Homo sapiens: one gene and its partners. The protein of the gene in region 1 purifies or fractionates together with the protein of each later gene. This does not show direct contact. Each region holds a gene or a part of one and is shown in the gene's direction. Other genes may lie near its edges.

Region 1 (5,620 bases):
ACCCTTAATTGACCCTTAGAATTTTAACAACCGGCCGGGCGCAGTGGCTCACACCTGTAATCCCAGCACTTTGAGAGGCTGAGGTGGGCGGATCACCTGAGGTCAGGAGTTCGAGACCAACCTGGCCAACCTGGTGAAACCCTGTCTCTACTAAAAATACAAAAATAAGCCGGACGCGGTGGCACGCGCCTATAATCCTAGCTACTTGGGAGGCTGAGGCAGAAGAATCGCTTGAACCCAGGAGGCGGAGGTTGCAGTGAGCCGAGATCGTGCCGCTGCACTCCAGCCTGGGTGACAGAGCGAGACTCTGTCTCAAAAAAAAAAAAAAAAGAATTTTGACAACTTTGTTGAATATCAAGAAAAAAAGATTTGGTTCATATGTTGACAGTCACTCTGGACAATTCAGAGGTTTTTTTTTTTTTCCTTCCCCCCACCCCAGAGATGGAGTCTCGCCTTGTTGCCCAGGCTGGAGTGCAGTGGCGTGATCTCGGCTCACTGCAACCTCCGCCTCCCGGGTTCAAGAGATTCTCCTGCTTCAGCCTCTCTAGTAGCTGGGATTACAGGCGCATGCCACCATGTCTGGCTAATTTTTGTATTTTTAATAGAGACGAAATTTCGCCATATGGCCAAACTGATGTCGAACTCCTGACCTCAGGTGATCCGCCGGCCTCAGCCTCCCAAAGTGGTGGGATTACAGCCGTAAGCCACGGTGCCCGGCCTTTTTTTTTTTTTTTTTTTTTTTTTTTTTTTTTTTTTGGATAAGCTTCTTTGGAGCATTTAGAAAGTTCTGAAACTAATTAGGAAAAGATTCTGTTACCCTAATCCATTTTTGACTTAAGGCTACATCTTTTGATACTTAAAGGGGAAAAGTAAAGTTAGTCATATTTATGCCAGCCAACGGGATGTAGTATTCCACTTTTTATATTCCTCAATAAAGGATTCAAGTCTTTCGTCAGAGTTTGGTTCATATTTTAATGTCTTTGTAATGCAGAGTCCCTGGGAGTATTCTGGGAGTGTTAATTCCAATTTTGCTGGGCGCGGTGGCTCACGCCTGTAATCCCAGCACTTCGGGAGGCCGAGGCGGGTGGATCACCTGAAGTCCGGAGTTTGAGACCAGCCTGACCGAGATGGAGAAACCCCGTCTCTACTAAAAATACGAAATTAGCCTGGCGTGGTGGCGGGTGCCTGTAATCCCAGCTTCTTAGGAGGCTGAGGCAGGAGAATCGCTTGAACCCGGGAGGCGAAGGTTGCAGTGAGCCGAGATCCTGCCATTGCACTCCAGCCTGGGCAATAAGAGCTTAACCCCGTCTCAAAACAAACAAACAAACAAAAAAACAATATTACAGCACTGCTTTTGAAAAAAATAGTTCAATTTTTATTAAATGCTAATAGCATGCTTGGTACAATGGTTATGAAAAACAATGCAACTTTTCATACTGAAAGAATCTAGTCTTATGCTAGTTTATAACTAAATTAGGTATATTTAGGATATTGTAGTTAAAAAAAACTGTTTTTAGTAGACTTCTTTTTTTTTTTTTTTTTTTTTTTTTTTTTTTTGAGAGATGGAGTTTCGCTGTTTCGCCCAGGCTGGAGTGAAGTGGCGTGTTTTCGGCTCACTGCAAGCTCCGCCCCGCCCCTCCCCGCCTTCAGGTTCAAGCGATTCTCCTGCCTCAGCCTCCTGAGTACCTAGGATTACAGGTGCCCGCAACCAGGCCTGGCTAATTTTCATATTTTTAGTAGAGACAGGGTTTTGCCATGTTGGCCAGGCTGGTCTCGAACTCTGACCTCAGGTGATCCACTTGCCTCCCGAAGTGCTGGGATTACAGGTGTGAGCCACCGCGCCTGGCCCAATAGACTGTTTTTTAGAGTAGTTTTAGGTTCTCAGCAAAATTGAGGGGAAAATACAGGGTGTTCCCATTAAATTTTTAGTAATAAACACGATTGGGCTGGGGGTGGTGCTTCACGCCTCTAATCCCAGCAATTTGGGAGGCCAAGGCGAGTGGATCACTTGAGGTCAGAGTTCGAGACTAGCTTGGCCAACACGGTGAAACCCCGTCTCTACTAAAAAAAAAAAATCAGCCGGTCGTGTTGGCGGGCGCCTGTAATCCCAGCTACTCTGGAGGTTGAGGCAGAATTGCTTGAACCAGGGAGGGGGCGGTTGCAGTGAGCCGAGATCTGCCGTTGCACTCTAGCCTGGGCAGCAAGAACGAAACCCTGTCTAAAAAAAAAAAAAACACCATGATTGAGTACTTATGAAAAATTGTGAGAAATTCATTGTGTGGGATTTTCACCATTACTACATGTATTTGGAAATAAAAATTGTATGACTATGTATATGAAACTTGTTCATGTTCTAAAAAATACCCTCCATTTATAATATGTTTTTAAAATTTGCCACTGAGAAGTACAAATTTCCTTCTTATTTCATCTTAGTTATCAACCCAGAGTCACTGGAGGCAATGCAGTGTAGTGGTTAAGCGTGCAGATTCTGAAGTTAGACAAGATTTGGGTTGGAATCCTGACTCTGCCACTTACTAGCTGGGTATTCTTGGAAAGGTCAGTTTCCCCATCCGTAAAATGGGGATAGGAATGGTACCTTCCTCATATGATTGTTTTTTTTTTTTTAAGATTTAATGAATACCTTGATGTATTCGTCACAGTACTTGGGCATAGTAAGTGTTCGATAAATACGTAGTCCCCTGTGCCCATAACTGTAATATTTTACTAGCACTAAATTGTCTACTAATTCTTTTGGTTAGAGAATCTCCCTTGTTAAATGACTATTTTACAGAATGTTTTGAACTCCAAATCAAGCCTACCACGATTAATTATATTAAGAATTTTATTTTAACTTTATAAGGGCTTCTAGCAGTAGGTTAAGCAATTTTAGAGGTGAAATTCAAGTGTTCTCTATAAATTCCTATTCCTGAATGTAGATATTCATATTTTTAAGTGGAAGGAAAAGCCTTAAAGACATTTTCAAATAATATTTATCTTTTGTAAAAGTATTGAAGAAATGTTGGACTAAATACTGACTATGAGTAACTGGTCCCCTTAGTTATGGATAGCATGGTATTAAGGGGGTTTAGGTCACAGGATTGAGTCCACAAGTGGCTTGTTACTCGAGTGTTCCATGGTCAGGAAGTTAGTTCAACTTTGTTCCCAGTTTTGTGCTATTGATCACAAAAGAGTCAAATGACAATATGTAGATACACCAGTGCAAATAAATTAACACTATTAATTAGTATTTTGTACCTTGTTTTTCTGTGTACGTGGTGAATCATTAGTCTCATTTTTATTACTGAGCATTTTCATTAGTTTGGTTGAGGCTGGAAATGTTTATGTAATTTGTACTATTTATTTGAATATTTTTGAAAGTTTTGAGAAAATTATAAAAATAAAAAAAATTCTTCCTCTCTATTTCTCTACTATAAAAGTTTCTATATCTAAAACTGTTAACAGATTTCTTTTTCGAGAGAGAAAAGGTTAAATTAAAGAAGTTTGTCACTAGTACTCCATAATTTTTTGGAGTTTCTTTTCATGGTTCTCATTTTTTTTCTTCTGCAGGGTGAGGGGCAGTGGTGGTAAAGGTATATTGTTTGTGTAGTGCACCATCAGTTATATGTAGAGATTTTTAACTGTGAGTCTGCAGTAGCAAGTGGCCATTGGTGAGAATCCAACCCACAGATATATACTGCTTGCCCTTAGAGTATTTGGAATATTTGATAATTGTCACCATTTAAGAATAGAGATTTCTTTTCTTTTTCTTTTTCTTTTTTTTTTTTTTTGAGATGGAGTCTTGCTCTGTTACCCAGGGTGGTGTGCAGTAGTGTGATCTTGGCTCACTGCAACCTCCGCCTCCCGGATTCAGGTGATTCTCCTGCCTCTGCCTCCCCAGTAGCCGGGGTTACAGGTACACACCACCATGCCTGGCTAATTTTTGTATTTTTAGTAGAGACGGGGTTTCACTCTGTTGGCCAGGCTGGTCTCGAACTCCTAACCTCAGGTGATCCGCCTGCCTTGGCCTCCCAAAGTGCTGGGATTACAGGCGTGAGCCACCTCGCGGCCAATAGGAAGATTTCATATTTAAGAAGTCTCAACTTCTAGCATCTCTAGAAAACCCACAGGACTTGGCTATACCTGGTGGCCATTCCTGCTTGAGACTAGATTGCCAGAGCTGAGTAGCGGTTGACCCTTTTAGGTGGGTACTGAGGTCTCCATTTGCAGTCTCCACCAGGTCTGCTTTGCCTTTGCTATTGCAGTATTTGCCTGGCATCTGGCCTGGATCTTATGCTGAACCTAATATTCAGACTTCTCAAGTCTGAAACTTTAAGGAAAAGAAAATAAGGAATGTAAATAGTACCTTTCTTTTTTAAAAAAATCATTTTACTGTCTCTACAAAAATAAAATCATTCTTATTAAGTCAAATAATTGGTGAAGGTTAATGTTAGAACATGTAGCATTCATTAACTTTGTCACTGATTGCATTATACATATGGGTGAGCCATTGTTTCTTAATAAAAATGGGGGTGAGACTTGCTAAGATTAGTTACGGACAATGATTGATGACCAGAACTCATATTTTTTACTGTATTTGTATAAGTAGCAGAGAAATATAGTAGGTGCTTCAAGGGTTGCAAGAGTAAAATGCCCCTTTTCTCAATGGGAGAAAAGGGAGTATTAGATCTAGTAGGAAATTAAGTAAACCAATTACTGTGATTCAGGCTAGGTTAAGATAAATATCACGAGTGAAGTATGAGCAAAGGTCATGAGGGTTAAAAGAAAAAGAAATTTGTGTAATTAGGATCAGTAAATTCTTTGAGGAAAAATAGCAGGTATGTTTTTCCTGCTACTTAATTTATTTTCTGAGCAAGAGGTTATTGGTTCTGATGCTCTTCGCTTAATGATTCTATCAGGAAAACATAATTATGAATTAGATGAGTTTAAACTTTTCACCCTTAGTGAAGAGTCTGGTCTACAGAACTTTTAGTTACCTGTGGTCTGGAGGGAAGTTGACGGTGATGTCTGTAGTGACTGAGGTACAGAGCACAGTTGAATGCTAGAATCGGTATGGATCATTGATTAGCCACTCTGGGGAAAACAGGCAAACATTACTGGCAAAGCTAAAAAGGACAGCCATAAATTAGGAAGGGAAAAGGAAAAACGAAGAGTAGACTTTCTGGTTGCTTTACTTCTCTCTCTTTACTGGCCATTGGTGAAATGAACAGAGTCCCTTTAAGAACACTTAAATACCCAGAAAAGTACCTTTTGGGAAGAAGATTTTTTATAGTGATTATTAACTATAACAATGGTTACCACTGACATTTTTTGTTGTTGTTGCTTACTGCCAAACAGGAACAGTTCTAATTGGTTTATTTGTATTGTTTTGGTTATCTATTGCTGCATAATAAAGCACTCCAAAACATAGTGGCTAAAACAATTGTGTATTTGCCCTTGATTCTAAAATTTGTGTATGGCTTTATGGTGACTTCTCCACATGTGATCTGTTGGCTATAATGTCCACTGTGGCTTCTTAACTCATAAATCTAGTGCCTCAACTGGGATGGCTGGAGCAGCTGGTAGATGGCTGGGCATTTCCCTCTCTCTTCCTACCCATGTC
Region 2 (4,162 bases), on another chromosome or scaffold:
GTAATCCTAGCACTTTGGGAGGCCAAGGCAGGTAGACTGCTTCAGCCCAGGAGTTCGAGAGCAGCCTGGAAACATGAACCCCATCTCTATTAAAAATTTTTTGTTGGCTGGGCGTGGTGGCTCACCCAGGAGGCAGAGGTTGCAGTGAGCAGAGATCACACCATTGCACTCTAGCCTGGGTGACAGAGCAAGACTCTTTCTCAAAAAAAAAAAAAAGGAATGGGGAAGAGGCCAGGCATGGTGGCTCACACCTGGGAGGCTGAGGCGGGCGGATCACTTGAGATCAGGAGTTCAAGACCAGCCTGGCCAGCATGGTGAAACCCCATCTCTACTAAAAATATGAAAATTAGCCAAATATGCTCACTTGAACCCAGGAGGCTGAGGTTGCAGTGAGCTGAGATCGTGCCACTGCACTCCAGCTTGGATGACAGAGTGAGACTGTGTCTTTTAAAAAAATAAAGGCCGGGTGCCGTGGCTCACGCCTGTAATCCCAGCACTTGGGGAGGCCGAGGTGGGCGGGTCACCTGAGGTCAGGAGTTTGAAACTAGCCTGGCCAACATGGTGAAACCCCTGTCTCTACTAAAAATAGAAAAATTAGTCAGGCGTGGTTCTACGCACCTGTAATCCCAGCTACTCGGGGTGAGACAGGAGAATCGCTTGAACCCCGGACGCGGAGGCTGCAGTGAGCTGAGATTGCCCCACTGCACTGCAGCCTGGGCGACAGAGCGAGACTCCGTCTCAAAAAATAAATAAGAGAATGGGGAAGCTGACCAATGAAGGTAGTGGATTAGTGGCAGTTTCAGTAACCTGGACCAAGAGTTCTTATGTTTTATGGGTTGTAGACCTCTTTGAATCTAATGAAAGCTGTAATCGTCTCCCCCAAATGCTCAATACCCACAATTTCAGATTCATTGTTAGGGGTTTAAGAATCCTTCCTGAAGTATACAATATATGGGTTAATGGACTACACGTAGGACCTGTGGCCTAGCATCACATCTTCCCAGCACAGAATAATTATCACCCAGGTACATGTCTTTCCCAGTGACCTCTTAGGCCATGGACCTCCTAATTCTCACCCTCAGAACCCCAGAATTCTCTTTGTGTTCTGGTCTCCTTCTCTGTGCAGGTTGAGCGCATTGAGAAGAGATGTCTGGAGCTGTTTGGCCGAGACTACTGTTTCAGCGTGATTCCAAACACGAATGGGGATATCTGTGGCCACTATCCCCGGCACATCGTGTTCCTGGAGTATGAGAGTTCTGAGAAGGAGAAAGACACGTGAGCATCATGTGACCGTAGTGTACATGTCTGGGGAGTCCGTGGCAGCTAATCCCTGTGGCCAGGAAGTCTGTAGCTGGGCAGGGCAGAATCACTTTCCCCAGGTGTTAATCCTTATTGGCATTTTTATTTACTTCAAGGTTGGACAAGTCAGACTGGCAAGGTGGCATGGCATAGAATGAGGGGTTGGGAGTAACAGCCCTTGATTGCTGTTTCACTTCCACCCTAGAGCTCATTGTCCTAAGATAGCTGACTTCACACTTCACTTCTCTGAATATCAGTGTCCCTTTTTTAGAGAGTGTGAGTGGGAGGTACACTGTGTAAAGACAGGCTTACCAGCGTTTACCGTATGTAGCACTTGAGAGCCTAAGGTCTAGAGTCAGACTGCTAGAGTCAGACTGTCTAGAGTTCACATCCTGGATTCCCCTGTTGCTGGCTGTGTAACTGATGCTGGGCAAGTTACTTAACTGCTTTGTCCTTAGTTTTCTTATTGGTAATTCTCTACCTCATGTTAATTAGTCCTTTTAAGGACTAACTAAAATTTTAGAAAGTGGTAGTGCAGTCCAGATGATAAATGGGGCTGATAAAAGCCTGACATGTACGTTGTAAGAATTAGAAATAAAAGCTACCATTTATGGTGGGCCTACCAAGACCTGAGTACCTTATGTGGGTTAACAGTTTATACCAGAGCAGACACAGAATGCTTGGTGCAGGTTGTGGCCTGTAGGTAGTCAGTAAATGGTATAGTTATTTGATACTGATAAGTAATCACAGCATGAGGCTCTAGGAAGTGGTATATGTTGATCTCAAAGTTTGCTCTCCTAATCTCCCTACTTCCTGCTGATTTTAAGGGAATTTCAGGAGCCGTTGTCAGCACTATCTGTGAAATCCTGGCCCCGTGGGTGAAATGTTGTGAGGAGTACCGCAGCAGTCATGCTGCATAGTGCAGTAGCCCCTTGCTACTCAAAGCAGGGCTAGCAGTGCATTCAATAACTTGTTAGAAACGCAGAAGCTCATGCTCCAGAGCCACTGAGCCAGAATCACAGCAGAACAGGGTGTCCAGGTGATTCGAATGCACTACCAGGTTTGAGAAGTGCTGCCGTAGGCCAACTGGGGAAATGGTTAATTCTGCCTTGTGTTTATGTGCCTGGGAAGAACTGGAATTGGAAGGATGAGCAGGAGTTTCCCTGAAAATGTCCTTAGGGATCAACTCATATAGGATCTTGATCATCAGGCCAGGGAGTGTGAACCTGTGGGTTGTGTGTGGGTATCAGTGGTTTTATTGTGCTAGGAACCCCTAAGCACTTACTAAGATTATGGATTCTCGGCCTGGCCTAGTGGCTCATGCCTGTAATCCCAGCCTCCTTTGGGTGGATCACCTGAGGTCAGGAGTTTGAGACCAGCCTGGCCAACATGGTGAAACCCCATCCCTACTAAAATTACAAAAACTAGCTGGGCGTGGTGGTGGGCTCCTGTAATCCCAGCTACTCGGGTGGCTGAGGCAGGAGAATCGCTTGAACCCAGGAGGTGGAGGTTGCAGTGAGCCGAGATTGCACCACTGCACTCCAGCCTGGGCAACAGAGCAAGAGCAAGACTCTATCTCAAAAAAAAGATGACAGATTCTAGAACCTCTCCTGGGCCTTCTGGAATCAGAATTTCCAGTCTACATTCTGTGAGAGCTCCCTTGATGTCTTTTTTTTTTTTTTTTTTTTGAGACAGAGTGCTCTGTCACCCAGGCTGGAGTGCAGTGGCACGATCTTGGCTCACTGCAACCTCTGCCTCCCGGGTTCAAGCAATTCTCCTGCCTCAGCCTCCTGAGTAGCTGGGATTACAGGCGCCCGCCACCACGCCCAGCTACTTTTTTTGTATTTTTAGTAGAGACAGGGTTTCACCACGTTGGTCAGGCTGGTCTCGAACCCCTGACCTCATGATCCAGCCGCCTCGGCCTCCCTAAGTGCTGGGATTATAGGTGTGAGCCAGCACACCCGGCCTCTTGATGTCTTAAATACACTATAGCTTGAGAACCGCTGCTGCAGGCCATGGGGAGCCAGAGAAGGTTTACAGCAGAGGAACAATCCAGTAGGAGGAGTTTAAGCACTAAGCCTTAGTTTCCTCATCTGTAAAGTGGGGATGTCTATAAGAGTGCCCATCTTGGCCGGGCGTGCTGGCTCACACCTGTAATCCCAGCACTTTGAGAGTCCAAGATCATGAGGTCAGGAGATTGAGACCATCCTGGCCAACATGGTGAAACCCCGTATCTACTAAATATACAAAAATTAGCTGGGTGTGGTGGCGCACGCCTGTAATCCCAGCTACTCGGGAGGCTGAGGCAGGAGAATCACTTGAACCCAGGAGGCGGAGACTGCACTGAGCCAAGATCGAACCACTGCATTCCAGCCTGGCGACAGGGTGAGACTCCATCTCAAAAAAATAAAAAAAAAAGAGTGCCCATTTCACAAGGTTGTAGTGGGGTTCTCCAAGAAAAGAGTGTTAAGGGCTCTTGTAAATAGATCACAGAAACAGTATTACATCCTCAGTTATATAACCTAAGAACTTGGGATCGCCAAGCCTAAAGAATTGGGGTTTGTTATGGCCCTGTTATTTATGGTTCTTAGCTCTTCCTTAATTCCTCCTTCCAGAATTAGGTAAGCTTAGTTTCTTTTTTTTTTTAAGACAGAATCTTGCTCTGTTGCCCAGGCTGGAGTGCAGTGGTGCCATCTTGGCTCACTGTAACCTCTGCCTCCCAGGCTCTAGCGATCCTTGTGCATCAGCCTCCCAAGTAGCTGGAATTACAGGTGTGTGGCACCACACCTGGCTAGTTCTTGAATTTTAGTAGAGATGGGTTTTGCCATGATGGCCAGGCTAGTCTCAACTCCTGGGCTCAAAC
Region 3 (3,731 bases), on another chromosome or scaffold:
GCGCAGGGGCCCACCATCAGGTACCTGCTTACCCAGGCTGGGCCTTGCTCAGAATTCCCCCAGGGGATCTCCTCCTCTCCCCTCGCTTCAGCCTGGAGGAAAAGAGGGGAGCGTGGGGGTGGGAAGGGAGAGAGGTTCCAGGAGGGCCTGGGATAAGGAATGTGTGACAAGTTAACCCAGGAACATGGACAGAAAGGCTGGAGGTGACTATGCAAGAGTGGTGAAGGGACTTGGGCCCTGCCATGACGTCCCTTCTGCTTTCTCTCACCCTCACTCCCCTCTGAGTCCAGATTGGGGAGCACAATAAAAGAAGAGCCCCCTAGTGTTGGCCAGGCCTGGGAGATTGAGAGGGAAGTGACCCTTGGCCTCACGTGGGCATTCCACCTCCACATGGGGAGCCAGAGTGACCGGGCCCGGGGAGTGGGCTCTCTCTCCTCTCCTGGATGGGAATCTGCGAAGCTGCCCCCAGTGACCTTCTGTCGGTTCCCTTCTCAGCTACCCAATGCTGCTGCATGTGGCAGCCCAGATCGCCTCCGGCATGCGCTATCTGGCCACACTCAACTTTGTACATCGGGACCTGGCCACGCGGAACTGCCTAGTTGGGGAAAATTTCACCATCAAAATCGCAGACTTTGGCATGAGCCGGAACCTCTATGCTGGGGACTATTACCGTGTGCAGGGCCGGGCAGTGCTGCCCATCCGCTGGATGGCCTGGGAGTGCATCCTCATGGTGAGCAGCCCGAGGACAGCCAGGTTGGAGCAGGGCAGGTGGGAGAACACTGGCCGCCACTCACAGCCCTGGTCTCCATCAGTCACACACTTTCTCTGGGTTGCATTTTACAGAATCTCATCTATAATATGAGGTTCTCCTAGCCCAAGGGACTGGGGAAAGCAGGAGCTGCAGTGTGATGGGCAAGAATCCAGGAGCCAAGAGTGGGTACTGGGGATGGAGACAGGGTGGCAGAGAGCTCAAGAGATGAGGTTGGGCGAGGAAGCTGGAGATAGAAGGGGTTGGGTAGGGAGACCGAAGGTCAGGACCAGAAAGTGGGGGTGGATGGAGAGGAAGGAGGAGCAGAAGGAAGAGGTGGGCCAGGGCCCTGGAGAGAGGACCAGAGCATGGAGAGGAAAGGCAGAGCCCAAGGGAGAGGAGTTGGAAAAGGTGGCCAGCGGAGGAGAGTGGAGAGCCTGGCGTCAGGAGGGATCAGGCCTGAGTGGAGCCCAGAGTGGATCTGGGGCTTCCAATAGGAAGGGAGGAGGGTCTACGTTGCCTGATGTCCCTGTCTGTTTTTGCTGCCTTCTCTGCATCCCAGGGGAAGTTCACGACTGCGAGTGACGTGTGGGCCTTTGGTGTGACCCTGTGGGAGGTGCTGATGCTCTGTAGGGCCCAGCCCTTTGGGCAGCTCACCGACGAGCAGGTCATCGAGAACGCGGGGGAGTTCTTCCGGGACCAGGGCCGGCAGGTCAGAGTGGAGGAGAGGGAAGATGGGTCCGAGGCGGGGGACAGAAGGGGCAGAGTTGTCATCTTGGAGACTAAAGAATATTTGTTCCCTGACTCTCATCCACACTGCCACAATGCAGGTGTACCTGTCCCGGCCGCCTGCCTGCCCGCAGGGCCTATATGAGCTGATGCTTCGGTGCTGGAGCCGGGAGTCTGAGCAGCGACCACCCTTTTCCCAGCTGCATCGGTTCCTGGCAGAGGATGCACTCAACACGGTGTGAATCACACATCCAGCTGCCCCTCCCTCAGGGAGCGATCCAGGGGAAGCCAGTGACACTAAAACAAGAGGACACAATGGCACCTCTGCCCTTCCCCTCCCGACAGCCCATCACCTCTAATAGAGGCAGTGAGACTGCAGGTGGGCTGGGCCCACCCAGGGAGCTGATGCCCCTTCTCCCCTTCCTGGACACACTCTCATGTCCCCTTCCTGTTCTTCCTTCCTAGAAGCCCCTGTCGCCCACCCAGCTGGTCCTGTGGATGGGATCCTCTCCACCCTCCTCTAGCCATCCCTTGGGGAAGGGTGGGGAGAAATATAGGATAGACACTGGACATGGCCCATTGGAGCACCTGGGCCCCACTGGACAACACTGATTCCTGGAGAGGTGGCTGCGCCCCCAGCTTCTCTCTCCCTGTCACACACTGGACCCCACTGGCTGAGAATCTGGGGGTGAGGAGGACAAGAAGGAGAGGAAAATGTTTCCTTGTGCCTGCTCCTGTACTTGTCCTCAGCTTGGGCTTCTTCCTCCTCCATCACCTGAAACACTGGACCTGGGGGTAGCCCCGCCCCAGCCCTCAGTCACCCCCACTTCCCACTTGCAGTCTTGTAGCTAGAACTTCTCTAAGCCTATACGTTTCTGTGGAGTAAATATTGGGATTGGGGGGAAAGAGGGAGCAACGGCCCATAGCCTTGGGGTTGGACATCTCTAGTGTAGCTGCCACATTGATTTTTCTATAATCACTTGGGGTTTGTACATTTTTGGGGGGAGAGACACAGATTTTTACACTAATATATGGACCTAGCTTGAGGCAATTTTAATCCCCTGCACTAGGCAGGTAATAATAAAGGTTGAGTTTTCCACAACTGTGTGAGTGGGTTCCTTGGGAATTTGGTAACTCTGCCTCCTGCACCTCCCTCTGAACCCACTTCCCAACCCACTTCCCATCTTCCTTTTTTCCTGCCTCCTCATTCCATTTCCCATCACCTGTTTTGCCCAGCATTGTGTTCTGTTTCTGGATAATCCAGGCCTTTGCCTGTGGGACCTCAGGAGATGCATGAATGTCTGAGTGCATGAACCTTCTCAACTCAGAGGGGTGCTCTGGTGGAGGCCTGGAAGGAATGCAGTCAGGCCAGGGGTGCTGAACCTTTTTTGTGCCATAAACGCCTTTGGCAGTCTGTAGAGGTCTACTGAGTCCTCCTCAGAATTAGGTTTTAAAACCTATAAAATGGACCAGGCATAGTGGCTCACCCCTGTAATCCCAGCACTTTGGGAGGCTGAGGTGGGTAGATCACTTGAGGCCAGGAGTTCGAGACCAACCTGGCCAACATAGCAAAACCCCATCTCTACTAAAGATACAAAAATTAGCAGGGTGTGGTGGCATGCGCCTGTAATCTCAGCTATTCAGGAGGCTGAGGCAGGAGAATTGCTTAGAACCCGGGAGGTGGGGGTTGCAGTGAGCTGAGATCACACAACTGTGCTCCAGCCTGGGCAACAGAGTGAGACTGTCTCAAAAACAGAACAACAACAACAACAAAACCCATAAAATGTATAGGATTATAAGGGAAACCAATGGAAACAGTTTACCAAAATGCTAAAAAATTATGAAACTAATGTGCTTCTTTTTCATGTATTTAATAACAAGATCTAAAAACAGGTGTAATAAACTGACATTTTCCAAATACTAATGAGCATAAGCCATATTTGAGATTTCTACAACAGTCACAGTGAGACATAAAAGTAGCTGTGGTGTCAATTAGTGACAAGTCACAGGTACTGCTAATACTACTGGTGGTTTTACCCATATTCATAATTGGAGGAAATGCTAAACTTCTATTAGAGGTTAGTAAAAGGTGTAATTTCTTTTTCTTGCCCAAATTCTAGAACCCATCTGGCTCCCCAGGGTCTGGAAATCCCAGGGGAGAATCCCTGGGTTATGCTGATCAAGTGTGCAAATGCCCCACTGGGGGTAGGGGATAGGTTGTTGGAATGGAAACCAGAACCAGAAACCAGAATCA
Region 4 (4,162 bases), on another chromosome or scaffold:
AAAAGTTTGAGCCCAGTTTATAGACTATTGCCAGCAGTAGTTCAGGTTTTAAAAAAATGATGAGGGATTAATCTAGGGGCATGAAGGAGAAAGGATAGATTTTTTATTTATGTCTATATATAAATAGACATTTATATTTACAAAGGTTGACTTAGCAGGCCTTAGTGATTGCTTAGCAAGATTAGGGAAAAGAAAGAATTTGAGAATAAGTGGGATTCTGACATGTGTGACTCATTAGAATGTGATGCCATGAATAGAGATCATGAAGAGGATGCGAGGGACACATGTTAGACTTCAGGAATAGAAAAAGGAGGTTGAGAAGAAGCCATTAGAAAAGTCAGAGGACAATAAGAATCTAATCATGTTGTAAAAGCTACCTAAGGTAGGAGAAGAAAGTTTGAAGGAGGACTAAACACTGTCAAGTTCTCTGGGAGGTCATGTAAAATAAGGTTTAGGGATATATTCTTTACATATAAAGGATTTAATCAGCATTTCTATATTAGGCTTGTTATTAGGCATTGCTTTTGGGCCTTTCTCTTTCACAGTCATTTTCTCTTAATTATAGTTTGTACATTAGAACAGTTTTTTTACTTCAGTACAGCCTCAATGTAAGCATCATCCATTTGTGATATTTGGATCCCTTCTTCCCATAGGTTGGGATGAGGTTTTATGTACCTTGTAATTCATAATAATAGATAAGGTTAGATAAGTCTAACCTTATTTTTTATTCTTAATATTCATAGTATAAAAGTGATATGAAAGATGCATTCACAACTTTAGTAACAGTGGAAAACAGCCTGTCATAGTGTAAATCTGTTTTATAGTATGACATAACTTGTCATAGTATAAAAAGGATGGGGTTTATCTTCATAATTCCTAATCTTTATTTTAGTTGTATTGCCTTGGGCAATGCATATCTTCTTGAGTTTCAATATTTTTATCTATAAAATGGGTAGATAATATCACCCTCACTGGACTAAAAGAGATGATGTAAATAAAGTACCTAGTAATACCTAGGTACATAGTAAACATCTAAGTGGAATTTAATCATAACCATTGATAATGATACATTCCCTGCCTTTTCTCAAAATAGCCTACGTATGTTGTAACCACACTCAGGCCTAACTTTTGATATAGCTTTTTCTTAATAGCTTCAAGTAGCTAGCAAAATCTTTTTCTCAATTACTTGTTATATGGCTTTTTGCTTCCACTAGCAACAGAAATTTCCATTAGAAATTTTACCTATCCATGTGTTCTGGCCATCTGGACCAGCACAAGTGGGATGAGCAAACTAGGCCAGGTGCTGAAGTTGCTACCTGTTCATTTGGCAGTTCCTCTCAGAGTAGTCTTTACTCTTCCAATTCCATATGATCATATCCTTTGGAAGTGGCAAAGGCTAAAGTAATTGGAAGGAAGCCATCAAGGAAAACTCATACATGAGAACACATGTGTAAAGTAGTTCTCTTACAATCATTTGGAAATTGGCAGCTTTGTTCATTTCTCCCTCTTTAGTATTCCTGTATATTCTACTTTTGTGAATATTTGGTTGTTTTTAGTAATGTTTCATTTCTGATTACTATTTTCTTGTGTTTTGATGTAATTTTGTCTAGAAAACCACTCTATAATACCTATAAGGTAATCCTAAAGAAATATTCTTTAAGTGTTTCTTGTAATTGCCACTTTTTTCCTGTCAAGTACTTTCAGAGAAACTGGATGAATCTATATCTGCTTACGTTTTGCTGGCATTGTATGAAGGATACCTGTACATATGATTTAGTTAGGTTTGACAATTTCATGAAAATAGTGGGTTAAATGTATTCTCTGTTAATTCACACTATTTTAAATTTATAGCATTCTTTTAAAAGATTCTATACTTAATATAAAAATAATTATAGATTGGTTTTTTCTTCTGCTGAGGTCTTGATTTGCAACATGTTTTTCAAATTGTTAAAACTGAGCTTTTTCTTACCTAGGCTAATTGTGTAGGCGTAGTTGTCTCATCATTGAGTGGAGATGGAAGTATGCCAGTAATTTGTGTCATTTGGAAAGTGTTGGCTTGAGTTAAAGTTAGTGTCCTATAAATGTCATATATAGGTGAAGGATACTCAGTGTTGTGGAATAGCTCAGGAACAAAGGTACATCAGATGTGGTCTTTGGCTAGGTTTCTGTAGCTACCTTTTGATTTTGCAGAAAAAGCCACCACGTGAGAATGGCCATAAGCAGATAAGTAGCAGTTCAACTGGATGTCTCTCTTCTCCAAATGCTACAGTACAAAGCCCTAAGCATGAGTGGAAAATCGTTGCTTCAGAAAAGACTTCAAGTAAGTATATGACACTTGCCAGATTGTTTTCAGCTTACCTATTTTTAAGAAGGAGTGTTGCCAATTTAATACCTCTTAAATTGACTACTCGAGGAAAAAACTCAGAAGCAATTAAATTTGGAAAACGAGAGCAGATTGTTCCAGTCTGGGATGTGGAGACTGGAGTCCAATTCAGGATCATATACACAAACCAAAAGTAATAATTACATCTTAAACATGGAACTCTTGTGCTTACAGATAACACTTACTTGTGCCTGGCTGTGCTGGATGGTATATTCTGTGTCATTTTTCTTCATGGGAGAAACAGCCCACAGAGCTCACCAACAAGTACTCCAAAACTAAGTAAGAGTTTAAGCTTTGAGATGCAACAAGATGAGCTAATCGAAAAGCCCATGTCTCCTATGCAGTACGCACGATCTGGTCTGGGAACAGCAGAGATGAATGGCAAACTCATAGCTGCAGGTAAGAACAGAAGCATTCAACTGGCTAAGCATGTAGATGGGCATTTTTGTGACATGCAAACTTTCAAAGAGAGGGTTTAATATGCCATCTTTCACGGCAATCCAATAAGATAGGGAAATAACAATACTATTGAATATGGCTAACCTTCAGTTCAATGTCTGTATCTAATTTTTAAAAAAATTATGTCATGGCTAAATTTTTCTAATATTCAAGCCAAGACTAAGCAGTTTATTTGTACTGATAATGCGATTTTTCAGCTATTACAAGCACTTAGTTAAAAGATCAACTAAGGCATCCTTAAAAAGTTTTAATACTTTTTCTCATTGTGCAGATTTCTTAAACTTACAGGACTGGAAACCGTGGTCCAGTTTAATATTTTAAACATAAATCTTTATGGTTTTATTTTTTACCAGGTGGCTATAACAGAGAGGAATGTCTTCGAACAGTCGAATGCTATAATCCACATACAGATCACTGGTCCTTTCTTGCTCCCATGAGAACACCAAGAGCCCGATTTCAAATGGCTGTACTCATGGTAAGCGCATTATGTTGCAGGAGCAACCCCTATTTAGCTTTTTCCTCGTAACTTCAGGATGTTAGAAATTCTCATCTCTCACTTTTGGCATAGGGCCAGCTCTATGTGGTAGGTGGATCAAATGGCCACTCAGATGACCTGAGTTGTGGAGAGATGTATGATTCAAACATAGATGACTGGATTCCTGTTCCAGAATTGAGAACTAACCGTTGTAATGCAGGTAATAATAGTTTTCTCCTGAGATATCCAGTATTTAAATATGATAATTAAATTATCAATATGTAACTTTATTTTATACTTACATAGGAGTGTGTGCTCTGAATGGAAAGTTATACATCGTTGGTGGCTCTGATCCATATGGTCAAAAAGGACTGAAAAATTGTGATGTATTTGATCCTGTAACAAAGTTGTGGACAAGCTGTGCCCCTCTTAACATTCGTAAGTTGATTTTTTTTCCTTTTTTTTTTTAAAGACCTTCAAATCAACAGTATGTGTAGTATACACTTAGAGTCTGGGAGATGTAGCAATAATCTTGACTTGACTTTTCTTGTAGGGAGACACCAGTCTGCAGTCTGTGAGCTTGGTGGTTATTTGTACATAATCGGAGGTGCAGAATCTTGGAATTGTCTGAACACAGTAGAACGATACAATCCTGAAAATAATACCTGGACTTTAATTGCACCCATGAATGTGGCTAGGCGAGGAGCTGGAGTGGCTGTTCTTAATGGTGAGTGTTGGGATTTGGAGAGGTGAAGAGTAGATAGTGGCAAGACTTTGTTCTAAAACTCTGAGAGAAAAGGCCAATGACTATAGTTGTACAGTTAAGAATTCAGAAGCAGTCATCT

Evidence for each region. Proteins that work in one complex are often made in the same cells at the same time.
Region 2: the proteins of RASA1 (region 1) and MTMR14 purify together in Homo sapiens (affinity purification with mass spectrometry; one large-scale study listed by BioGRID and IntAct). This does not show direct contact.
Region 3: the proteins of RASA1 (region 1) and DDR1 purify together in Homo sapiens (pull-down; one large-scale study listed by IntAct). This does not show direct contact.
Region 4: the proteins of RASA1 (region 1) and IVNS1ABP purify together in Homo sapiens (affinity purification with mass spectrometry; one large-scale study listed by BioGRID and IntAct). This does not show direct contact.

Annotation. Positions count from the first base shown.
Region 1 is NC_000005.10:87,269,928-87,275,547, forward strand, and holds part of RASA1 (ras GTPase-activating protein 1), read left to right. Parts: intron 1-5,620. UniProt on the Homo sapiens protein: Inhibitory regulator of the Ras-cyclic AMP pathway. Stimulates the GTPase of normal but not oncogenic Ras p21; this stimulation may be further increased in the presence of NCK1.
Region 2 is NC_000003.12:9,652,495-9,656,656, forward strand, and holds part of MTMR14 (phosphatidylinositol-3,5-bisphosphate 3-phosphatase MTMR14), read left to right. Parts: intron 1-1,126; coding exon 1,127-1,275; intron 1,276-4,162. UniProt on the Homo sapiens protein: Lipid phosphatase that specifically dephosphorylates the D-3 position of phosphatidylinositol 3-phosphate and phosphatidylinositol 3,5-bisphosphate, generating phosphatidylinositol and phosphatidylinositol 5-phosphate.
Region 3 is NC_000006.12:30,897,578-30,901,308, forward strand, and holds the end of DDR1 (epithelial discoidin domain-containing receptor 1 isoform 2 precursor), read left to right. Parts: coding exon 1-20; intron 21-495; coding exon 496-730; intron 731-1,310; coding exon 1,311-1,460; intron 1,461-1,578; coding exon 1,579-1,719; 3' UTR 1,720-2,579; downstream 2,580-3,731. UniProt on the Homo sapiens protein: Tyrosine kinase that functions as a cell surface receptor for fibrillar collagen and regulates cell attachment to the extracellular matrix, remodeling of the extracellular matrix, cell migration, differentiation, survival and cell proliferation.
Region 4 is NC_000001.11:185,299,592-185,303,753, reverse strand, and holds part of IVNS1ABP (influenza virus NS1A-binding protein), read left to right. Parts: intron 1-2,190; coding exon 2,191-2,320; intron 2,321-2,557; coding exon 2,558-2,782; intron 2,783-3,195; coding exon 3,196-3,317; intron 3,318-3,410; coding exon 3,411-3,537; intron 3,538-3,623; coding exon 3,624-3,755; intron 3,756-3,870; coding exon 3,871-4,044; intron 4,045-4,162. UniProt on the Homo sapiens protein: Involved in many cell functions, including pre-mRNA splicing, the aryl hydrocarbon receptor (AHR) pathway, F-actin organization and protein ubiquitination.